7 linked regions of the Homo sapiens genome follow. The protein of the gene in region 5 interacts with the protein of the main gene of each other region in a biochemical or structural test. Each region holds a gene or a part of one and is shown on either strand. Other genes may lie near its edges. The genes, in order: ABLIM1, NEK6, DDX17, TSSK2, PTPRD, MARK2 and SMTNL2.

Region 1 (3,500 bases), on a different chromosome or scaffold from region 5:
CTAGTTACATAAGATCTATATTTTTTGAATGACTACTATGTATAAACCATCTAGATAGGCAAGAGGTGGTCCCAGTCTTCAAGGGGCTTGAAATCTGGCAGGCAAGGCAAGACAGGTGTCTGTTAATAGTAACTAGAATATGGCAGAATACCTGCTGGGCTCTAGAGGAGATGGCATTGGTGCTGGAGGTCAGAGGGGTGTGGAAGGTTTGGGTTGTTGTGGGAAGGAAAGAGAGACCACATGGGGGCATGTGTGCAGTGCATGTGTTGAAAGGCTGCTGGAGGGCCAGGCAGAGCAAGGTGGTATCCACCCAGGTAGTGCCACACCTTCCTTCCCTCATGCAGTTCTGCTGAAGGAATGACTGTGGGATTGAACATTTCTCCAAGTCTTTTCCCAGGATGTGGGCCAGGAGAAAAGGAATGAAAGGAATGGCCACCATGAAGGGGTCCTCTTCATACCCTCCTTCCTGTAGCAAGGGCCTGCAGCAGCCCAGAAGGACAGTCTGTTATCAGTCAAGAGGCTGCTGAATCCTTTCAAATGATGTTTTCTAAGCATATAGGAAATGCACGTGATATTAGTCAAAGGATACAAAGTTGCATTTATAGTATGATCTCAGTTTTATATGTGTGTATACAAAAATACTAGATAGATATAAATCAAAAGATAGTGTTATTTCTGAGTGACATATTATGGGTTACTCTTCTTTTCTTCTAGATTTTCCAAAATCTGTAAAATTAGCATGTATTACCTTTATTTCTTGTTTTTAAACAAATCAAGGCAATTTCTTTTTAAAGGATACCAGCCCCAGTCTTCCCTTCCCACATCAAAAATCCACACACACTCACACATGCCTTCTGAGGTCTCCTGGCTCTTTAGGGAAAGCAGAGGAAGGAAAACGTTCTTCTAACACAGAGCCTGACTTAGGGAAATGGAGCTTTGAAACTGAAAGGGCTAAGAGGGTTTAGGGTCCCAAACTTGACCTACCTCTTCAGGAACTACCAGGCTCTGGGGCCACATGCATTCAGGCCCTCCAGCAAGAGAAACTTCTTGTGGGATCTGCTACAAAGAAACTGCAGCTCCATGAAAGTAATTGCAAGCTTTGCTTTCTTTTTTTTTTTTTTTTCCTTTTTTCTGTGAATAGCTTAACTCAGGCCTGGGACAGTTGATCTTGAAAGAAGAGATGGAGAAAGAGAGCCGGGAAAGGTCATCTCTGTTAGCCAGTCGCTACGATTCTCCCATCAACTCAGGTAAGCAGCAAACCCCCAACCTTCCCTGATTCGAGAGCCAGCCACCTGCTTGTAAGGCACCTGCCTTGACTGTTCACTTGTGGTGGAACCTACAGAGTATTCCACGGGAAAGGAAGTGTGGGAAACCCACTCCATGTCAAATGAGCTCATAAGCATGTCATGGGTCTTCCATAAATGTGTGTTTCCTTTCTTCTGGAAATGGGTGAACCCTTGGAGGTTCTCAAAATCCATGAAGGCCAATCCCCATATACTAGGTTTGTCTTCTAGAACACTCATCTCCAAGGGAAGCAGCAAAAGGAAATCCTCTAAAAAACATGATGCTTTTCTTCTTCTTCTTTTTTTTTTTTTTTTTTTTTAGATAACATGAATAAGACATTTTCTAAGCATTATGATTTTACATTAATATCTTCAATAGAGGCCGGGTGCGGTGGCTCATGCCTGTAATCCCAGCACTTTGGGAGGCCAAGGCAGGCGGATCACCTGAGGTCAGGAGTTTGAGACCAGCCTGGTCAACGTGGCGAAACCCCATCTATACTAAAAATACAGACATTAGCCAGGCGTGGTGGTGGGCTCCTGTAATCCCAGCTACTCGGGAGGCTGAGGCAGGAGAATCACTTGAACCTGGGAGGTGGAGGTTGCAGTGAGCTGAGATCACACCATTGCACTCCAGCCTGGGCGACAAGAGTGAAACTCCATCTCAAAAAAAAAAAGAAAAAAAATCTTCAATACAAGAACTGAGGATGAACAGTGTTTTTGATACTTTTGAAGAAGATGACTTATACACTGGGCTGAAATAGCCTATCAGTGTATTTTCCCCTGTATCTATTTGTCATAAGCCAATTCTCTCTTAAACCACAAGATTTCTTCTCTCATATTCTGAGCTAGAGCATAATTTTCTCCTCTAAGAGTTCCTTTAAAAATGCATTTAGTGGGGAGACCAAGGCGGGCAGATCACAAGGTCAGGAGATCGAGACCATCCTGGCTAACACAGTGAAACCCCGTCTCTACTAAAAAATACAAAAATCAGCCAGGTGTGGTGGCGGGCTCCTGCAGTCCCGGCTACTCGGGAGGCTGAGGCAGGAGAATGGCGTGAACCCAGAAAGCTGAGCTTACATTGAGCCAAGATTGCGCCACTGCACTCCAGCCTGGGTGAGAGTGAGACTCTGTCTCAAAAAAAAAAAATGCATTTAATGTTCACTCCATGCAAGCATTTTTGCTAAACATTTTATTTAATGTTCACAACATGCCAGTGAAGTAGATGTGGTTGTTATTAGCAACTGCAGCATTTTCATCTCTATTTTAGAAATCAGGAGGCTGGTATAGAAATTGAGTTAACATACCCAGCGTGATACGCCAATAACTAGCAAGACTAGGATTTAGAAGTCCACATATTATAACCCCGGAGCCCACACCCTTACCTGGAATTCCCGCTACCCTTCATAGATGCCTCACTGGCATTGATCTTGGATTCGGTGGTTTACAAATCTTTAGAGTTCCTTGGAATTCTGAGATTCTGCTCTATAAGAATGTATAACATTGTACCTGCATAGATGAAGAAATGAGGACTTCAGAAAGATTAAACACCATGTCCGGAGATACAGAGGTATTAAGTTGCAGAACCAGAATTCAAGCCCAGGGCTGCTCCCTCTCAAGCCCAGCAGCTTATCAGGCTTCCATATCATTGACAGATACCCTGTATCAGGCCTCCCAGGAGGCCAGCTGTAGATGGCTGGTAGATCTTGATAACATACAGGGTTGGCTTCCAGTTCAGTTACTGCTGCCTTATCAACTGGGGCATGGGCTAATGTATTCAGATATCCCTGATTTACATCCTTGCTCAGCTGTTTAGAAGCTTAGTAACTGTTGGCAGGATATTTTTCTTAGCCCCTATTTCTCCTTCTGTAATATGGAACTAATAATCATAGTGTTATTAGGGTTATATTGAAGATTCAAAGAAATAAAGCATGCTGAACACTTAGCTCCATGCCAGAGCTATAGGAAGCACAGCCAGCTTCAGCCCCCACTCAACCGCGTGGACTTGACTTTCCCTTCCCTCCTCAGTCATATCACTGTCCACCCACTCCTTGCAAATATGATGGCATATTTTTGAACATTTGAGCCCAATATGATTTGAATTTTTTTGGTATTTCTATCCTGTGAGGTAGAAGATACTGCCAATTTCATTAAAGGATTGGACCTTCTGATTTCCTAACAATTGGTTTTTTACTTTTTTCTTACTCAGCTTCACATATT
Region 2 (3,500 bases), about 120 Mb from region 5:
TTTGTGAAGGGTGAGTGGCTACCATTTTTGGATCATCTACTTTTTGTATTAGCTAACTTGCATATTTTATTTCAAATTCTGTCTGTCAGCAATCCTGAAGGTAGATGATAGGTACTATTAATCTCATTGTACAGATGAGGAAATGAAGGCTCAGAACGGCTAAGAAACTTGCCCAAGCCCAAAGTCACGCTAGGAAGTTGCAGAACCAGAATTTGTAAAGGACAGCCCTTCGCTTTTCTATATCCCATGCTTCCTTCCCATGGAGGAAAATGCTTAACACTGATCATGAAATGAACCGCCAGCATTCAAGGAGGTGACGAAGTTCCTGGTACACAGCAGGTGTCCAGGAGAAGATGGCCCAGCCTGGCTGCCAAGAAGATGCTCCTGCTTCCCGATGCCTTTTGCCTGTGACACTCTGGCCAGGTGCAGGGCTCTCATCGTCACTCACCAAGTTATAAAACGTAGATAAAAATGTTAGCAGAATCACCACTCCACGGAAAAAAATGATTTCCACTTTATCCCTTTACAACAGAGTAAATTAAGCACACAGCTTGATTGAAAAGATACTAAGAACTAAACTGAACCCGGTACTAACCATTTTCAAAGGCTCACTACACAAATCACACGGTCTCCTGCAAGTCTCCTGTTAGCATAAGCCTTGACAGGTCACTGGAGGAATTACCCTAAAGATTCACATTACAATCCAGATACAGGGGGCTGCCGTGGCTCGCTGAACCACCTGCCCTTATTGACCCAGCTGAGATTGTCCACAACAGTATAAAGAAAGGACTTTGGAATCTGACCATCAGTGACATGTGGCCAGCGCCCCTCCCTCAGCTGCTCTGCCTTCAGCATCTGCTGTAAGGCTGGGCAGCCTTTTGGGGAACCTGCTGAACCCTGTGGTCTTAGCTGTTCTAGGCTACCAGGTGGCCACTCGAAGAGAAGACGACTCAAGTAAGGCAAAGTGGTGCTGGCTTTGATAAGGCACGGTGCATCCACGCTCAGGTGCTGGACATCCAGATGTGCATCTGCTTGGCCACCTGGTGCACGTATCCGATGTCAGGTCTCTGGTGGGGGTCAGGGCAGATGCACATGCTGACCAGTTCTCGTAACTGCAGGGGAGAGAATGGTGTGTTATTCTCAAGAAAGCAGTCTTACTGAGGCTCCGCACTCCACAGTCTGTCTGCATGAAGGCACTTCATCCTCAGAGCAACTAGATGGTCCCGTTGTCCCCGTTAGAGCTGAAGAACGGTGTTTAGCTGGGGCAAGTAAGGGGTGCGCAGCCGCATGGCTCCCAAGGGCTAGCCAGTACCCCTCCCAGGCCTGTCTAGTCCCAAAGGCTGTGCTTTGAGACCCTAAGAATGGTTAACCTCCAAATTATTTTGAACTTGTAGCTGTCCACACCATTGGGCAAATTGTGTGTGTGTGTGTGTGTGTGTGTGTGTGTCTGCTGTCAGTCACGCAGATGCCCAAACCAGAGGACAAAACTCAAGGCAAGGGCTTATTGATCATAATAAACGCATTAACATGCAGCAGGGCTGCAGTCTGCCCACCCCCGGCCCCTTTATTGTGCTCATGAAAGACGGAGCTTTTAATTATACAGACACTGAAGGCTGCTCCCGCCCCGAGGTGGGGGAGGGGCGCCTTGCGCCTCTGATCGCCTCCATTCTTCTGATAGCCGGAGTGCCAATTATTTTAATGGTAATTAAAATAATGACCTTAAAATGCCTACATCTTACCCTGCATCACGGGCTCACAGCCATTGGTTTCCATTTAAATACCTGCTGCTGGAGGGGTGGTCAGCCCCGCAGGCCACAGCAGCCGAAGCAGCAGCAGCAGCAGGAAGCTGGGTGGTCCTGAACCAGAGGGGGCTCTGGTGGTCTCAGTGGCCACACTCACTCAGGGACTGGGAAGGGCCCACGGGACGTTCTGGAGGCCCGGGGGCTACTGCTGCGCAGGCCCGTTAGGCTGAGGGATGGGGCCTGGGCTTCCTGTAGACTAGGGCTCCTCTCAGCTGATGGGGCATTTTCTCCCTGGGCCACAGAGCCTTAGGGTATCCCCTCGCACCTGCGTGCATGCCTTACAACCGAGAAGCCCAGGTGACACAGGGCCTGCAGCCTGCTAGGCCACTCCCGGAGTCTGAAGTCGCCTGTGGACAAGACAGCTGTTTTCTGAACCTTACAATATTCGGGGGAAGGTACCTGTGGTTGGCCTCTGACAGGTTAAAATACCCAAGAAAACCAGATTCAGGTGAAGTGTCTGTGACCCGAACTAATTTATGAAGTAAACGCACAGTTGTCAATAAGTGCATGTTTGAAGTTTTCAGAATTCAAGAGAAAAATAATAAAAGTGTCTTATTTTCATTTCTAAGCAGCGATATAACTTTAAAATAGGGTGTGCTGGGGGCTCCTGAGCACCACCTCTCACTCCTAAGCATGGGGCCCGGCGAGAGCCAGTGCTCCGGGGAGTGGGGGCTCGTGGCCAGGAAAGGGCTGACTTGGGACAGGGGCTTCAATGTTCATTTCAGCCTCATCACTGAAGTAGAGAGGGCGACTCCCATTTCTAGACTGACAGCCAAAGCACAGAGTTGTCACCAGCTCCAGTTGCACAGCTTCAAGCTTCTGAATCATACACAAGTCCGAATTCAGAAGATGAGAAAGGAAAAAAGCAAATGGCAACTATTAACTTTGTAAAGAGATGCAACTTGTTTTTCCTCCCACTGGGGAGGAGAAATACTTCCTCCAAAAGTGCAGGTCAGAACTTGGGAGCCAGGAGAGGAAGGGCACTGTGCAGCGCCCGACACTCGAGCTCCTCTAGCCCTGGAGTCTGCAACGCCAGCAAGCACAGGCTCAGCACAGGTGCCCTGCGAGGAGCCTCCGGCCTGGACACAAGCGCAGCACCCAGGACCTGCCCTGTGCAGTTTGGCCGGGGCAAGGGCACTCCTTCCAGAGCCTCACCCCAGCTAATTGATGGGCCACCAAAGACATGCCATCAAGAAGCACGATGGCTCCGTGGCTGCGCATGTGGGTTCAGATCCTGCCTCACCGGTCTTTTTAACTTGCCTGTGTCTGTCTGTTCCTTATTGGTAAATGGGTGAGGGGAAGATTCAACTCAGGAAGTCTGAACATGAGCTGTTATTATCGTGAGGTGACGGCCTGTGGTCCTATGGGGTGGGCCCACGGAGGCCCCAGACTCACCCACTAGCGTTGACCTTGAACAGAAATAAGGGTCACATGATATTTAGTGAACACTGACTGAGCCAGGCCCCATCCATTGGCCACTTTGGATGGTGGTGGCAGTGTTAGCCTGGTGCCTTACCTTAATCCTTATGCTGATCCTGTGTGGAAGATTTAATATTATCCCCATTGTATAGGTGAGGAAACTGAGACTCAGGGAGGTTAGGTGACTCACCTAGGAACAGTGCAGAGAGTGTGTGAACATGTATCTACACTTTTGACCCTGCTGTGCCAGGAAACCTGTCCTTTCTTCCTCACCATTAT
Region 3 (3,500 bases), on a different chromosome or scaffold from region 5:
CTGAAAGAGTAACCATTTCATGTGTAGAGTCCAAAAAACAATGGTAATGAGGTACAAGAAGAGACAATGTTGGCTGGGCACGGTGGCTCCCACCTGTAATCCCAGCACTTTGGGAGGCTGAGGTGGGTGGATCACTTGAGGTCAGGAGTTTGAGACCAGCCTGGCCAACATGGTGAAACTCCGTCTCTACTGAAAAAAAAAAAATAAATAATAAATGAACCAGGCGTGGTGGCACATGTCTGTAATCCCAGCTACTCGGGAGGCTGAGGTGGGAGAATTGCTTGAACCTGGGAGGCAGAGGTTGCAGTGAGCCAAGATCATGCCACAGCACTCTAGCCTAGGGGACAGAGTGAGACTTCACCTCAAAAAAAAAAAAAGCCAATCTATCTTTTTCACTAACAGATGAAAAAACATGACCTAATATACAATATTTCAATCATGTATAATAAACAGATTAGTAAGCATTATCAACAAGAGAACAAATTAAATGCATATTTAAACTGGTCCCCTTTTATGAGTATTAGGGGTCTTAGATAAGAATGTAAGAAAGGCTGGGCATGGTGGCTCACACCCATAATCCCAGCACTTTGGGAGGCTGAGGCGGGCAGATCACAAGGTCAGGAGACGGAGACCAGTCTGATCAACATGGTGAAACCCTGACTCTTGCACTCCAGCCTGGGTGACAGAGCAAGATTCCGTCTCAAAAATAAAAAGAGGCTGGGCGTGGTGGCTCACGCCTGTAATCCCAGCACTTTGAGAGGCTGAGGCAGGTCGATCACCTGAGGTCCGAGGTCCGGAGTTTGAGACCAGCCTGCCCAACATAGTGAAACTCCATCTCTGCTAAAAATACAAAAAATTAGCCGGGCATGGTGGCGGGTGCCTGTGATCCCAGCTACCTGGGAGGCTGAGGCAGTAGAATCGCTTGAACCCAGGAGGCGGAGGTTGCAGTGAGCCAAGATCACACCATTGCACTCTAGCCTGGGCAACAAGAGCAAAACTCCGTCTCAAAAAAAAAAAAAAAAAAAAAAAAAAAAATCAGCTGGGTGCAGTGGCTCACGCCTGTAATCCTAGCACTTTGAAAAGCTGAGGCAGGTAGTTTGCTTGAGCTAGGGAGTTCAAGACCAGCCTGGGGAATATGGCGAAACCCGGTCTCTACAAAAAGGAAAAAAAAAAAAAAATTAACCAAAAAATTTTTTAAGAAAAATATCACCACACTAGAATAAAATGTAAAACGGCAACAGTAGCGTATGAATAAACTCTAACCAATATATCTACTTGGTTCAATAATCTGTACATTAAAACACACATGTAAACTTACTGGTGTCAGCCTTGCTACTTCCGGATGTTCCACATAAAAATTTTTCTCAAACTTGGGGAGCTCACTCAAATCCCACTTTTTTTTACGCAAACGCTCCCCAGGATTACCAAATTTCTTCGGGGGAAGGCCACCACCACCTCTTGCTCCAAATCTAGGAACAGAATTTTTAGTTAGTTCATCAGTATTTTTAAAGCAACGTATCGTACATGCCATAAGAATATTCAAAAAGGATGGAGTTCTAGGGATACTACCAGCCTACCTCCAAAAAGACCATTTTATTTGCTGTGATTTAAAGGTATGGAGAAATGTGTAAAACCTCCCTTACTACCCAACAATAAATACTGTTTATGAATATAGCTACAATAGGCAAAAAATTAAAAATCCCTTTATTGAGAGAAATACATCCTAGGGATTACAATCACAGATTCTGGATCCAGACATGGTTTGAGTTTTTATTCTGCCACTTACTGTATAATTTGAAGAGAATTATTTAACTTCCACACACCTTAGTTTCCTATGCAAAGTAGAAATAATACCACTTATTTCAGAGGCTGCTGAGAAAATGACCTAATAATGTGTAATGTACTATAAAAGTATCTGGCATAGCCAGCACTCAGTACAAGTTAGCATCATTTCATTCAACAAATAGTTATTAGGTACCAAGTTACTAGGTACCAAGTATGTATCGGCTACTGTTTGAAGTGGTGCTGTGCTGGAGTTACTAAACAAAACAGACACAAGTCTCTATTTTTGTGTAACAGACATGCAGGCAAAGGATGACATTAAGTTAAGTTTCAATTAAAGGGAAGATTGTGGACAAGAAGGAAGATACACTCCAAGCAAGTCCCTCAATCTTAGAATAGCTTCTTGGGCCTGCTCCCCTATTAAACTGTGATAAGCACTCCACCTGTCTGCTTATCTGCAAAGCAAAACTGGGTCTTGGAAAGGACTGGTAGACTGGTCTTCATTTTTAGCTTACGCTAATAAAAGAGCTGAGCCTGCCGGGGGCAGTGGCTCAGTCCTGTAATCCCAGCACTTTGGGAGGCGGAGGCCAGTGGATCACTTGAGGTCAGGAGTTTGAGACCAGCCTGGCCAATATAGTGAAACCCTGTCTCTTACTAAAAACACAAAAGAGTAGCCAGGCGTGGTGGTGCACGCCTGTAATCCCTAGCTACTTGGGAGGCTGAGGCAGGAGAACCGCTGGAACTCGGAAGGCGGAGGTTGCAGTGAGCTGAAATGGCACCATAGCACTCCAGCCTGGTAGACAGAGGGAGGGTCCGTCAAAAAAAAAAAAAAAAAGCTGAACATAGATTTATGACCTTTCCTTCTTCTTTGATCTCTACTTTTACCTTCTATCTCCTTCTTGTTCCCAAATGGTATTATTAATTTACAGAGAAAAAAACACTAACAAGACTTATTTAAGGCTTTAACACTCAACTAATTACTTAAGATCAACTTCTTGCTTTTTATATACCTTTCACAACAGACAAGCTCAAGAGGAATACAAATATGACCACTAGCCAAAGCTAATATTTAAGAAATCAGAAGCTACTTTTCCTAGAAGAATCTTAACACTAAGATGGCCTTAATTTTCCCTATTTCGATCTTGTAAAGTACAGGTCTTTGTTTGGCATACAAACTGTATAGCATTTTCTCAGTTTCTTTACTCCTTGTAAAATATTGTACTGAATTTAGTTCCCTTTTCCCACTCTAACCCACTTGTAACTTCATCTTATATAAAGTTCCACTTTATCATTGATAGGCAAGTAGGTGTATTATTCTACAGGGCCTCAATTTCCTGCAATTCAAAGCCATTAGAACTCTGGCTTAACCAGCCAGACATTCCTCTAAATACATACGTAACAAAAATTGATGGCAGGAGATTTTATTGGGATCACTGGATACCTACACTCAACAGGCAGAACTTGGCTAATTCCATTTATACCACTACTGAGACAGTGAAGACAAATTAAGAATCAGAACAGGAAGAGCACATAGCATAGGGATACCCGTGTCAGCGACATATTTAATATGCCCCTCAGCTTAAGACTCAATACTGAACAGACCAAAAGGCCACCTCAATTGCCGCTCCCGCCACACTTGCAAATGAAGCAGCTAAATAAGGTACTTTTCAAGAGGTAGAAAGTCTTTGGATTATCACTCTTGCAAATTATAAAAGACT
Region 4 (3,234 bases), on a different chromosome or scaffold from region 5:
CACTTTCAGAAAAAGCCCTCTCTTCTCCCAGGCTCTCTGCTGCCTGGGTGCCTTCCTGCCGCCTCTACCCAAGGGAGGCCCTGCCCCACCCCTCAGACATGCAGCCACCTGCCCTGGACCCTGGGCACCCAGCTGGCATGCACTGCAGCCCCGACCCACCCATACACAGGCCCTTGCTCGCTGGAGCAGCAGCGACTCACCTGCCCGGCTCTCTACCCTGAGGGGCCTGCCGCCTCTGCTCCCAAACACAGAGCTGCTTTCGTCTACCAGGCTTGGCACCACTGCCAGCCTGACTGGTCCAGGGCAGTCCCTCCCAGGTACCACTGTTCCCAGAACCAAGCCAGGTCCAGCTGCATTTTCTTGAGGCCCAATAACGAGAAGCAGACAAACTAGGAAAGAAGGGAGTTTATCACTGTAACTGGATACAGGGAGAAGGCTGGAGATAATTCCAGCAGACCAACTCAAAGTGCTACAATTTTCTTACTGTTTATATAGGTTGGGGTTATGTGCCTACATGCAGTACAGCAATCACCTAAGTCTACTGGTAACTAATTTTGTTCCAAGGAGAAGGTCAGAGGCAAAAAAAATGCTTGCTAAGTCCGATTAAAAGGGGCCCAGTGCCTTCAAGGCCTGTCTACTGTGGTACCGGAGTGATTATTTCGATTGTATCTCCTTTACAGCTTGGTCCAGAGAGCTGCCTTAGACTATCCAATTGATCTATTCAAACAGCTGCCTGTTCCCTTAACTTGTCTTCAGATTTTGTCGACCCGAGATGGGTCCTGGCACTAGGAATGTAAAACCGTTCCTATTATTTTGGCTTGCTCCAGCAAAAGAGAAGCCCATGCAAGGCTCCTGCTGACCATGTTTCATTTCTAGCTTTGATGTCTGGGCACTGATTTCCCTAGATTTAACTATGTGCTCAATGGTAAGGCAGTGCTGTGGAAATCTGTCTGTGTAACTGGGGTGCTATGCAGGCCTGTCTGGGTGACTGTCAGGGACAACTGTCCTACCACACCAAGGACACAGCCCTGGGGGTGCTTTTCTTCATAGCCAAAGAAGCTGCAGGAAACCCACCCTAGTGGGACAAAGACCAATGCAGGGTCAGTCCCCACAGCCAGGTGATGCAAACAGGCTGGACGTGGGCCGCCTCCCCTCCAGCTTGACTTGTGACAGGGAAACCAATGCAGCAGCAGCAGGGCCACCAGAGTCCTGTCCTGGGGACAGGCTTCCTTCCAGCGGGCGGGGAGTGGGTGCTCCTGCCAGACCAGCCTGGCTTCCACGGTTCCAGAGACCCTGTTCTCCCTCAGCCCAGTCCCCGCCCCCACTCCTTGGCTTTATGAGTTCATTGGCTGAAGTCACCCGGAGACAATGCTGAGTGTTCCACCCCTGAGTCGAAGCCCAGCCCAGGGCAGCCCAGCCAGACGCCTCCGGTAGTGTAAATGAGGACAATGCCTGCTGGCCCACATGACGGGGGGATGTAGACGGCAGCGGCGCCAGTCGCTCCTGGCACCATGGACGATGCCACAGTCCTAAGGAAGAAGGGTTACATCGTAGGCATCAATCTTGGCAAGGGTTCCTACGCAAAAGTCAAATCTGCCTACTCTGAGCGCCTCAAGTTCAATGTGGCTGTCAAGATCATCGACCGCAAGAAAACACCTACTGACTTTGTGGAGAGATTCCTTCCTCGGGAGATGGACATCCTGGCAACTGTCAACCACGGCTCCATCATCAAGACTTACGAGATCTTTGAGACCTCTGACGGACGGATCTACATCATCATGGAGCTTGGCGTCCAGGGCGACCTCCTCGAGTTCATCAAGTGCCAGGGAGCCCTGCATGAGGACGTGGCACGCAAGATGTTCCGACAGCTCTCCTCCGCCGTCAAGTACTGCCACGACCTGGACATCGTCCACCGGGACCTCAAGTGCGAGAACCTTCTCCTCGACAAGGACTTCAACATCAAGCTGTCTGACTTTGGCTTCTCCAAGCGCTGCCTGCGGGACAGCAATGGGCGCATCATCCTCAGCAAGACCTTCTGCGGGTCGGCAGCATATGCAGCCCCCGAGGTGCTGCAGAGCATCCCCTACCAGCCCAAGGTGTATGACATCTGGAGCCTGGGCGTGATCCTGTACATCATGGTCTGCGGCTCCATGCCCTATGACGACTCCGACATCAGGAAGATGCTGCGTATCCAGAAGGAGCACCGTGTGGACTTCCCGCGCTCCAAGAACCTGACCTGCGAGTGCAAGGACCTCATCTACCGCATGCTGCAGCCCGACGTCAGCCAGCGGCTCCACATCGATGAGATCCTCAGCCACTCGTGGCTGCAGCCCCCCAAGCCCAAAGCCACGTCTTCTGCCTCCTTCAAGAGGGAGGGGGAGGGCAAGTACCGCGCTGAGTGCAAACTGGACACCAAGACAGGCTTGAGGCCCGACCACCGGCCCGACCACAAGCTTGGAGCCAAAACCCAGCACCGGCTGCTGGTGGTGCCCGAGAACGAGAACAGGATGGAGGACAGGCTGGCCGAGACCTCCAGGGCCAAAGACCATCACATCTCCGGAGCTGAGGTGGGGAAAGCAAGCACCTAGCATGACAATGGCCCCGTTGTGTGTGGTGGGGGTCGGGGTTGGGGGGCATGGTGCAGTCGGCCTTCACGTAAACTAAGTAGGCAGGTAGGATCTGAAGAAGGCACAGGTGCAAGTAAAATTCGTCAATTAAACCACTATTTTGATTACGTTCCATTAGCTTTCTTCCACTTAGCAGCAAAGACGTTCCTTACTGACCACCAAATAAACCACAGGGTGTGTGCAAGCATCAAGAGTGCCCAGTGAGGAGTGTTTTTCTCTGGGACTCAGCCAACCGCCCCACCTGACACACAGTGGTCTCCGGCCTAGGAGCACAGGACAGATGCTCAGGTACAGGCAGAATCACAGTGTGGCCTGGCCTTGTGGGGGACAAGAGGGCCTCTGCCAGGGTCCACCCACCAGGCCCACACTGTCTCCCTCTGACCTGGCCTTGTCCCCAATGCCCTGGGGCTGGCCAGCTCCAGTGGTCCACGACTCCCCCTGGCTTCCTGCAGTTCAGCCCCCTCTGACCTACCCCCACTCCCTCACAATCCCTCGCTCAGCATCCTCCTCTTCCTCTATTTCCTGGAGTCATGTGAGATTTCTGTCCTCAGCCCTCAAGTTCCCTGCCCTGTCCTCCAGGGGCAGCCCCAGCTGAGACCTCCCCGTG
Region 5 (3,500 bases):
ATTTGTGTTCATTTTGCAATAGTTCTAGCCATCTGCAGAAAACTTAAGTTGCCCTATGTCTGACTCAATTTGCAAACACTTTCTAGAATTCTATAAACACTAGGGGAAAAAAAAACGGTACCCTTACATGCTTGTACTCTTTCTCTTTAGTTCAAAAATATTCATGTAATATAGTACTTTGGTTATATTTAGTCTGTTTTTTAAAGGAAAGAATATTCCTTGAGCACTCATCTATGCAAGGTGAAAGATAAAACTACAACAGAATATACTCTTACTTGCCTTTTGATTTTTAATAGTAGGGCTCACCAAAAAGTTAAATCATCTATTACTAGACTATGTTGATTTCAACTTTTTTTTTCTTCTTTTTCCTTTGTATTTAGAAATTTTAAGCATTTATTAATGCTCATATTGACTTTTCTTGGGGTTCTTATCAAGGTTCTGGTCTAGTATGTAGACTGTACACATCAGTCCCACCATAATGGTCGACCATGTGTAAAATTCCTAGTTCTGTCTGGTTAGTGCCTGGGCCTCCATGGACTGTCTTTTAATATTCTGATGATTATCTCTACATAGGCTGCCAGATACTTCCAAGAAAAAATCCGCCTATCTAGGCTTATGCATGTTATATAATACCACAGATATGATTAGGTTATACACACATTTAAAATGCTGAATAATGAATTATTTTAGATTTTCAAGGATGGGCTTTCTAGAGGCATTAGTCACTTGGCTTGAGTGTACCCAGATCCTCAAAGCATAATCCATTGAGCATACCTTTGACAGTGATCTGTGCTATTGCTTCAATGACACCCAGTGTTGACATAGCAACACAGGTGTAATTTGCTGACTGTCTTACATCATTCAGTTCTAGCACATTTCTTCCTATTGGCATATCATCTTCAGGTGTCAGATCTTCTGCCCCCAACATCCACTTTACATAAGGCATTGGTGACCCCACGGCCACACAGGTGATATTAACGCTTCCGCCTGGCATGATTTCATGATTAGTGGGTGGGATAGAGAATCTTGGTGGGACACGGCGAACTGGAACAAAACACAAGGGAAATGATAACATATACAAGGCAAGAAAAAGTGGATTATTAAACACATGACATGCACCGTACAGACACGATTCAACAATTGAAACATTGTGGATTGTCCAAAAACAAAACATAAAGAAAAACTGTGGATAATACAGACCATACAAGTATGGTGTGTGTATACACAGAATTATTTATTTAGTTTAGTCATTGATATCTTAGACACACTAATACAAAAGTTGATTCAGACCTACAAGGGCCCCACAAAAAACTATCTACAAACTAACAATACACAAACATCATGCATAAGATAAACACAAAAACATATACATGCAGGCATATAACAATGATTCTATGCAGGCATGTATATGCAGAAAAGGGGGCTGGAAGGTCACCAGCATGTTTAAGTTGAGTATCAAAACCAACTTCAGTGCTGTGCACTTCCAGTTGATGTGAATGTAGGTGTGGGACCACACTGTCACATCCCAGCCCTGGAAAACATCACCTAGAGTACACTGAAAGTGCACTTTATGTTTTCAGATTCATAGTGGATGCAGCCTCAAGACCTCACACTAACACTGGAACAAACACAGAAATGTATATACATATTGATTTACAGTCACAGAAGAAGAAACAGGCTAACACCAGTAGAGATACTGGATTGGGTCATGCAAGGCATGCACAAGATGGAATCTCAAGGCCCGTGCTAAGGATATTGAAAGAATGGCTGGAATCCAAGACAGCAATGACCGCAGAAGAAATAAGGGGGCAATAGAAATAAACGTGAAAGGGGGAGGTAAAGTATAACGATTGAAACACAGGGACTTAGGGGATGACAGGGTTGAAAGACAGAAGATTAAGCTCAAGTTGTTAAAGGTAAGGATTGCAAATTCAGAAAGGGAGCTGGGTGTTTCACATACAGGATTCCATTCAATTCATATCAAAGGTAAAACAACATAAATGACAACAAAATCTTTTAAAAGGCTTTTTATGCCCACATTCAAATTGAGGGACACTGGATCTAAAACATACAGCAGGACATGACATTAAGAGAAGAGATCATATTAAAGCAACATAACACAGAAAAATTACCAAGCAATTTCAGTTCAGTGTTCCTGCTTCAGATAATCTGCAGGTTTATGTGTGTTTAAGTAAATGTGTTTTGGATGTGATACAAGGAGAAAGTGAAAGATAAATTGGTTTCATCTGGGGCTTTTACTGGCAAAATGTCATACCATAAGAATTTGAGATCTAGAGGGTAATCTTTAGGGAGCACACCTTAAATACATTTAATAAAGATTTTTTAAAAATTATAAATAAACTGATAAGTAACCTCATAACCCCAAGAAGAAGATAAGTAATTCTGTCTGAAAACTTTTTGGCTGCTCTTAAGGTCGAGATAAACCTCCGCTTATTTGAGATGGCTCACTGCAATGGCCTCATGGGTGAATGACAGTCATAGGAGAAGAAGAGAAAGCTAAGCATGCCTCCTGCAGCCAATTCACAGAGGTTACACAAAGCAAGCAGGAGCCAGTGTAGACTCTGAGGTATCAAAGAACATATCAAGAAAAATGGAGGAGAGTTTAGTCTTCATGCTTGGGATTAGGGGAGAAACTAGAAAAAGTCATTCTATGGGCAGCAGGCATCCTTATAAGACAGAAATTAAAGGCAGGGTGGGAGATGGGGACAGTGGAGCAGGAAGGAAAGCAGGAACACTGACCAAGTTCACTGGACCTTACAGAGTTAAGTGTTACCAGTTACCATGCACCCAGGTACATTCTCTCCCACCATGCACCACAGTTAGATACCACCAGCAAGCACCAGAAGCCATGGCCAGGGCATTCTCTGCTAAAACATACCATTAACCAAAAGAAGAACACAATGCAGCTACATTCATTTCATTTGTATTCTTTGTTATTGGTTTAATTAATAGTTTTGTAAGGTGGGTAAAAAGTAAAAAACACACCAACCTTCTCGCAGCTCTGAGGGATGTAGGGGGTTTGATGCAGAACACAATGAAATGAGGAAAGGAGAAAAACAAGGGAAACACAGAGAGAGTAAAAAGGCCATATCAAGGCTTTCAACTGCTACTTGAACATCTTTATTCGCTCTAGTTCATCCTTCCTATCTCAGCTGGAAAAGTTAGCAATATCTCACAGACTAACATGGTATTAGAAACAATAGCTAGCATCATTTTGAAATTTTCCATGGAAGAAGGTACACATGCCTCATGCAGCAAGGGAGGTCACTATTGTGGAAAAAGGATCAAGGGACTTTCGAAGAATTTAGAGAAGAAATGACTTTCTTCATATTTCCCCACCCCAGACTCCATAAAAAAAGAAAGGAGAGAAAAACATCCCCAGGGAAACAAAATTACCTCTAACAAAAATTTCAAAATCAAGCTAGGTATTTTCTTAAGGGAACCCATCCTATTGTAACTTAAAGCCCTCTCAGTCTTTT
Region 6 (3,500 bases), on a different chromosome or scaffold from region 5:
GGTGGTTGTCTAGCTCATGCACGGCCTTCCCTGTGGCTGGGAAGTTGGGGAAGCTGGAGGAGGGCTGGCTGTGGGGACGTGCTACCCGGGATGGCATCAGGATGAGCCAGCCATGCCCTCTGCTGCGTCTACCAAATCCAGCCCCAAAACAGCAGGCAGGTTTTGGCTGGGTGCCTCTACTGGAGGGAGTGTGAGCCCGTGTGCGTGAATATTCAGAATCCGAGCTGCTGCCTTGGTTCAGTGACAGTACACACCCCAGCTTGGTCTGTGTAAAGGGGTGGTAGAGCACCAGAGGGGGACCCCATCATTTTCTGATTTACAGTAGTCAGAGGGCTCTGTTCTAGGGGATAGGCCTTTCCTTCCTGGGCCTCTAGGGTGGTGACAGAAGAAGCCACTCCTATATATAGCTGATGCCAATTTTAATCAAATCCACCTCCACACACTCACGCTCTCTTTGTGAAACAAAACCAGGGGCTCCAAACCATGTATTTCCATAAAGAAAGATGACAGAAATGAACTCCTTCCCCTCTGCGGGGGCCAGAGAACTGGAGGTGGGGCTTTTTGTAATTTCAGGCCTCATCACTTGCACAAAGAACAGAACTAGTTTTTGTTGTTGTTTTTGTTGGGGGTAGGGGAAGCCCTAATTCAAGATATGGTTTATGGAATAAAGTGAATACATTTGTTTCCCCTTTAATGATGCCCCAGAGCTTTCCTAAGCTAGAAAGGAAAAGAAGAAAAAGGCTTTCCAATCCTCAGGAACCCAATGCTGACCTTACCCTTTATTAGGGCCTAGGTTTTTCTTACTTTTTTCCCTGGTCCAACAGATATTTTGGATGGAGAGGCAAAAAGCCTGGATACCACCCTCTGGGGCAGTAATGGGGAGCAGCTCTGAAATAGGGCCAGAGGCAGCTGCCAGGGCTTCTTCCCCTGAGGCTGCTCACCTGGCATGGAAGTGACATTCTTCTGGGAGAACTTGGGGTTTTCTGGGCTTGTCTAGACCCCTGAGGGGGCTAGCTTCTTCAATGTTCATTTTTCAGGGATCATTGCTGAGATCACATTTTTGGCCAGAATCAGACTGGCTTTAGTAACAAAGAGTCTCAAAAGGTTTTGAAAATGGCTCTATTTGTCTGGTGTTGGTGCCTTCCAGAGAGTCAGGAAGAATTAGGGAGAAAACCAAGAAGAATTAGGGAGAAAAACAAGGTCAGGAATAAGATGGCTTGGTGGACTGGCGATTATTACGATGGCAGGCTAGACTGCTCCCAAGGCCAAATGGCCTACCCCACGCTGACTTCTTCTGTGGGGCTGGAGCCAGGATGTCATAAGCAGCCCTTTTTCCCTTCCTCCTGGAAAGCTTCAAGCAGAGACACCCTGATGATGACAACAATGTTTCTACTGAACTGAAGAACCCTTGAAGGGATCCCAGGGGTAACAATAAATAGGAAACACCTTGGTTCTGGCTATTTGCATGTCCGGAGAACAACTCATCCACTCTAATTCCATGAGCATCGCCCTCAACAACAATCCTCAGCCCTTACTCCTAAGGTTCCCAGTATCACTATCTGACTCTGTTAGCACGAATCATGCCTTCTCCTAACTCAACTGCCACAATATGCTTATGGAGAAAATATCTGATTTGCCACAAGATGAACAGAACTAGGTTTTGTTCAGAAAATTTGAGCTGGAGCTCATTCTCTAAAAGGTAGCTGGCACAGAACCCACCGGCAGGTTCCCTGCTTCCTCTTATTCTTGTATTTCTAAAGCCACTCCCCTGTATCATTCCAGATCTTGAAGTAGCTGCACGTGTTTCTAGTAGTGGCTACAAACATGTGTTTTTGCATAGGGCTGGCCACAAGCCAGAAGATAACAAGATGCAGGAAGTAGGTCAGACAGGTAGGCCAAGTGGCTGGGAATGAACAGAAAGACTTCACAAGAGCCAGTGCCTATGGCCAGGAAGCCCACTCAGGAGGAGTCACCACAGATGATCCAACCAAAGCCCCGAAGGTAGCAGAGCCATGGGAGGGAATGGTTGGGGGACGGTGAGCGAAATGGCCAGAAAATTTAAACTAGGAATTCAAGAGAAGGTCTAAATGGGGTCAGTAGATCATTGACCCCAGAAGAGAGATTTAGAAAGGGACAGGTGGGCTGGGGGCAGTGGTTCACGCCTATAATCCTAGCACTTTGGGAGGCCGAGGCGAGCGGATCACTTGAGGTCAGGAGTTCGAGACCAGCCTGGCTACCATGGTGAAACCCCATCTCTACTAAAAATACAAAACTTAGCCAGGTGTGGTGGCGGGTGCCTATAATCCCAGCTACTCGGGAGGCTGAGGCGGGAGAATCGCTTGAAACCAAAAGGCGGAGGTTGCAGTGAGCCGAGATCACACCATTGCACTCCAGCCTGGGCGACAAGAGTGAGGCTCTGACTCAAAAAAAAAAAAAAAAAAAAAAAAAAAAGGGACAGGAGGTGCCATGTGCTTACTTTCTGGAGGCTGGAGGAGTTCAGTTGAGTCTTGTCAATGATCTTCACAGCTACCTGAGGATGAGACAAAAAGGCCCCAAATCACTTCTCTGACCAGCGAAACCCAGGATTCCAATCTACTTCCTCCTTTATATTTCTTACTCCTTTTCATCCCACAGCTTTTTGCACCCCTATATCTCAGATCTCATTTCTGCCGGATAAACAAGAGGTTGGCTGCAGTAGTAGTCCCATCACCACCTGCTGGAGTGTCAACAGGGCTGGGAGGTGCTGCCATGTCCCCAGTCCCAGTGCTCACCTCTTTCCCAGTCAGGATGTGTCGGGCCAACTTCACCTTGGCAAAATTACCCTTGCCAATGGTCTTGAGGAGCCGGTAGTTTCCAATGTGGGGCTGCTCATCAGCAGAGGTGGCTGAGTTGCGGCCCCGAATCATGTTGGACTTACTGCTGGGCTTGGAGTCAAGGTGTCCCAAGGTGGGCTGCGGGGTGGAAACAGAGATACCATTACATGCCACACTTCCAGTCCTCTAAACGCTCTCTGCAAAATATATAAGGGATGAGGGTGCAGGGGCAGATTCCAGGGGGCTGGTAGGCATGTGAAGAATGATATGGCAGCAGAAGAAAGGAGAGGGGGCTGAGGTGACAGCCAGTCTTCACTCCAGAGAAGCACATCATAAGGTCCAGTGCCCAGGTCCTGTGGGTGGCAAAGCTCAGGAGCAGAGCTGTCCCATCACTGGCTCCCTGAACCTCCATTGGCAACACAACAGCTCGTCTGGTTCAGGAGGGAGAGCCGGTACCCTGCCTCCCTCCATGCTGCCTGTGCACACTGCGAGAAGACTGCATCTCAAAGTCATGGTAGCTACATGGTCATAACTGCTTCAACGCCCTCATCGCCACCCAAAACTTACATGAACCTTTATTTTTTATTTATTTATTTTTTTGAGACAGAGCTTTACTCTTGTTGCCCAGGCTGGAGTGCAATGGTGCGATCTCAGCTCACCGCAACCTCCACCTCCCGGGTTCAAGCA
Region 7 (3,500 bases), on a different chromosome or scaffold from region 5:
AGGGCACTCCCAGCAGAGTGATTAGTGTCTGCTTTTGCAGAGAGACATCAAGGCACAGGTATCCTGATCATGCCCGTCCAGGACGCAGGCAGATGGAGAAGTGCCCTGCCGCCCAAGCTGCCTGCCCTGCCGCCCAAGCTGCTGGCCCTGGGTACTTGACGCCTTAGACAAGAAGGAGCCCAAGGTCCTCGGCTCTGTGTTTCAGGCACACCCTTCAGAAGATGCCAGAGAGTGGAGACCAGATGGCAAGACACTTCACTAGTCCTGGGCAGGAACCTGGGGAGGGGAGATGGGGCACTGGGAGGGCCACGGGCAAGAAGGACTCGGAGCTTTGGGGAAAAGGGATCTGGCTGGGAGACTGGGTGGACATGGAAGAGGAAGGGTGCCAAGCCTCTCCCAAGCCCAGACTTGGTGGGTCAGGGCAGGTTTAGGGGCTAAATGAGGGTTTCAGTTGGGACATGTTGAGGGCCTGGGGCACCTGGAGCATCAGGGAGCTGAGGAGGTAGCTGGATTTTTGAGTCTGGAGTTTAAGAGAAAAGAAGGACGAACATGGAAAAACAGGAGTCAGGGGCATGCACTGGGCTCCTGGAAGCCCAGCAGAGGAAGAGCAGCTTAGGGGCCCTGGGATGAGGCCCCCACATTTCAGGAAGCAACAGAGCAGTCTGCGGAGAATGAGGAGCAGCCAGAGACGTAGGAGGAGCCCCTGAAGAATGGTGAGAAAGCCAAGGCCAGGAAGGAAGGGAGTCAAGAAGCCAGGCACGGGGCCAGGCGCGGTGGCTCACGCCTGTCATCCTAGCACTTTGGGAGGCCGAGGCGGGTGGATCACTTGAGGTCACGAGTTCAAGACCAGCCTGGCCAACGTGGTGAAACCCCATCTCTACTAAAAATACAACAATTAGCCAGGCATGGTGGTGGGTGCCTGTAATCCCAGCTACTCAGGAGGCTGAGGCATGAGAATCGCTTAAACCCAGGAGATGGAGGTTGCAGTGAGCCAAGATTGCACCACTGCACTCCAGCCTGAGCAACAGAGCGAGACTCTGTCTCAAAAAAAAAAAAAAAAAAAAAAAAAAAAAAAAAAAAAAAAAAAAAAGCCAGGTGCGTCCAAAGGCAGCCTGGGGTTGAGGAAAAGGTGAAGAGGAAATCCAACCAGGCATCCATTGGGTTCAGCAAAAGAAGAGGTCATGGGTGATCAGAAGCGTGGGGCGGGGGACAGGGGGTTGGGGGACAGGAGATGGCCTAGCAGAGGGGTCCCAGAGAAATGAAGACAGCGCAGTAACTTTAGCCCTGAGCGAAGCCAGGGGAAAGGGTCTGAGGGGTTTTTCCAGAAGGAAGAGGCAAGACCACATTCATAGGGTGAGAAAGGTGAGGGGAGCATCTGCAGAGCGGGACCACTGGGGAGCTCACAGCAGACAGGACCCAGAGCCTGGGAAGAGCCAGCCTTGGAGAGGAGGCGACCCCTGAGCTCTTGATTCAAGAGTGGGAGGAGGAGAGGCCAGGCCCACTCTCAGAAACGCAAGAAAAGCACAGGGCGTCTCCCAGCACGCAGAGCAGAACGGGTGCCCCTAGAGCCACGCTGCGGCCGTGTAGACCATGTCGGCAGGGGGAGGAGAACCAGCCAGTCCAGCTGGAACCCCGGCCCCCACAGTCACCAGGCTCTGGGGTCTCCGTGCCCCCTCACCCACCCTGCTCTCGTCTGACAGGTTCCACAGGTCCAGGCGGGGCTCTGGGGGGAAAGGCTGAGGGTGAAACCATTTTCCCAGGAAATATGTTTCTCTATAGGTGGGTGGGAGGCCCTCCGCAGATGCCTGTCCCTGCACGTTGCAGCCCCTCAACAACCCCCATGATGCCCCAGGGGACCAGGCGCTACACCAGACTGGGAGTAAGTTCTATCCTGGTTAGATCACTGCTAAGGGTTCTCCGGCAAAGGGAGGAGGGGAAGGGGCTGGGCTAATGCAGGCTGGGGTGTAGGGCTGAGCCCAGACTCCCAAGCTCCCCTGCCCCACGACTAGAAGCATTCGTCACCTGGGGAAAGGGGTCTGCCCGTGCCTTAGGTCAAGGCGCAAGGGGCTATTCTGAGACCATCCTCCAACCCATCATCACACAGATGGGGAAAGCAAGACGTGGGGTGGGGCAGGGGGAACCCCTAAACCCCACACCATGACTAAAGGTAGTGGCAGAGCCAAAGTACGGGACTCGGGTCTCCCACCCCAAACCAGGGCTCTGTCCACAAAGTGCTCTGGCCTTCTAGGGGGCAGAGAGGACAACTCAAGGCAAAGTTGTCTTCCAGGACCTGGGTCAGTATGAGCCCCGGCCCCATGGGATCTGTCTTAGCCAATGAGTGTGAGGAAAAGGCGGGGGACTGGGGTCACCACCCAGTGGGACCTTCACAGAACTCAGAGGTCTTCAACCAAAGGGCTGGGCTGGAACGAGCTGTCCCCGCAGAGTCCCCAGTGGGTTACTGCTCTCCTTTGATGGGGGCAGCCTGTCGCCGTCATGCGGAAGGAAACCAGGGAGGGGCCTCGGTATGCTGGGACCGGGGCAGAAATCGCTGGAGAGCCCTGGGGCTGGGGACAGGTCCTGTTGAGCTGGCCTGGTACCCCCCAAGATTCCCCAGCTCGGCTTTGTTTTGAGAAAGGGGAGGTGCCCCATGAGGGAGCCCAGGCCTGAGGCACTCACGGGAAAGGCGGAAGGGTGATGAGGTAAGTCTGATTTCAGGGACCTTCTTATTGGAAAAGCTTTTAGACATTTTTGTAGGGGAAGGAAGAATATTTCAGGCCTTCTGGGTGCTGCCTGATCTGCACGGGCCCATCCATGGGGACGAGACCCACGCAGGGCCAGAGCCCCATCCTAAGACAGTTCACACTGCTGACCCGGCCCTCCTCCACTCACAACACCGTTTGAAAGGACTTAATTCAAACTTCTCCCTAAAGCATTTAACTCTCTTATCGCACAGTGTGTCTGGGAAAGGAAGGCAGATAAGGCGAGTCTGGCTTCTTTCATGGTCGGGCCTCTGACATGGGGCTCCTGGCAGCTGTTCCTGGGGCCTCCGCTGCCTCGGGCATAGGGACCCAGTGGCTCCAGCTCAGCTGAGGATGACATTTCCAGGCCACAGCTCTGGCCCAACCTGCTGGGGCCTGGGCCTGGCCTCAAGCTGCCACCATCCACCCCCGGCCCCAAGCTGGCTCTCAGCTCCCTGCTCCCAGCCAGACAGGATTACTTGATCAACCCTTCCTGTATTGAGTTCAGGGGACATTTATATATTGGAGACAATCTACCTCCAATCCTTCAGTCCCCAGTTTGAAAGGAACTGGGTCTCTAAATGTCATTGCTTGTTACAGAGGGGTAGTGTGACACCAACCTCTACAATGCCAGGTAGTACAGCCATCCCTGGCTCATGTGGATGGGATGAGATTGTCCCACCCAGACCCCCACTACACAGACACAAAGTCTGAGAGGTCAGACACCCAGCAGCCTGGTGTGGGGCTGTGACTCTATGTCCA

The links.
Region 1: the proteins of PTPRD (region 5) and ABLIM1 form a complex in vitro, tested with the Homo sapiens proteins (one study listed by BioGRID and IntAct).
Region 2: the proteins of PTPRD (region 5) and NEK6 form a complex in vitro, tested with the Homo sapiens proteins (one study listed by BioGRID and IntAct).
Region 3: the proteins of PTPRD (region 5) and DDX17 form a complex in vitro, tested with the Homo sapiens proteins (one large-scale study listed by BioGRID).
Region 4: the proteins of PTPRD (region 5) and TSSK2 form a complex in vitro, tested with the Homo sapiens proteins (one study listed by BioGRID and IntAct).
Region 6: the proteins of PTPRD (region 5) and MARK2 form a complex in vitro, tested with the Homo sapiens proteins (one study listed by BioGRID and IntAct).
Region 7: the proteins of PTPRD (region 5) and SMTNL2 form a complex in vitro, tested with the Homo sapiens proteins (one study listed by BioGRID and IntAct).

What each region holds. Positions count from the first base shown.
Region 1 is NC_000010.11:114,441,776-114,445,275, reverse strand, and holds part of ABLIM1 (actin-binding LIM protein 1), read left to right. Parts: intron 1-1,141; coding exon 1,142-1,247; intron 1,248-3,489; coding exon 3,490-3,500. UniProt on the Homo sapiens protein: May act as scaffold protein. May play a role in the development of the retina. Has been suggested to play a role in axon guidance.
Region 2 is NC_000009.12:124,348,449-124,351,948, reverse strand, and holds part of NEK6 (serine/threonine-protein kinase Nek6), read right to left. Parts: intron 1,113-3,500; coding exon 1,002-1,112; 3' UTR 1-1,001. UniProt on the Homo sapiens protein: Protein kinase which plays an important role in mitotic cell cycle progression. Required for chromosome segregation at metaphase-anaphase transition, robust mitotic spindle formation and cytokinesis.
Region 3 is NC_000022.11:38,499,812-38,503,311, forward strand, and holds part of DDX17 (probable ATP-dependent RNA helicase DDX17 isoform 1 precursor), read right to left. Parts: intron 1,470-3,500; coding exon 1,319-1,469; intron 1-1,318. UniProt on the Homo sapiens protein: As an RNA helicase, unwinds RNA and alters RNA structures through ATP binding and hydrolysis.
Region 4 is NC_000022.11:19,129,889-19,133,122, forward strand, and holds TSSK2 (testis-specific serine/threonine-protein kinase 2), read left to right. Parts: upstream 1-1,419; 5' UTR 1,420-1,511; coding exon 1,512-2,588; 3' UTR 2,589-2,734; downstream 2,735-3,234.
Region 5 is NC_000009.12:8,520,503-8,524,002, forward strand, and holds part of PTPRD (receptor-type tyrosine-protein phosphatase delta isoform 1 precursor), read right to left. Parts: intron 3,023-3,500; coding exon 3,011-3,022; intron 1,045-3,010; coding exon 775-1,044; intron 1-774.
Region 6 is NC_000011.10:63,894,610-63,898,109, reverse strand, and holds part of MARK2 (serine/threonine-protein kinase MARK2), read right to left. Parts: intron 2,952-3,500; coding exon 2,772-2,951; intron 2,531-2,771; coding exon 2,477-2,530; intron 1-2,476. UniProt on the Homo sapiens protein: Serine/threonine-protein kinase. Involved in cell polarity and microtubule dynamics regulation. Phosphorylates CRTC2/TORC2, DCX, HDAC7, KIF13B, MAP2, MAP4 and RAB11FIP2. Phosphorylates the microtubule-associated protein MAPT/TAU.
Region 7 is NC_000017.11:4,587,529-4,591,028, reverse strand, and holds part of SMTNL2 (smoothelin-like protein 2), read right to left. Parts: intron 1-3,500.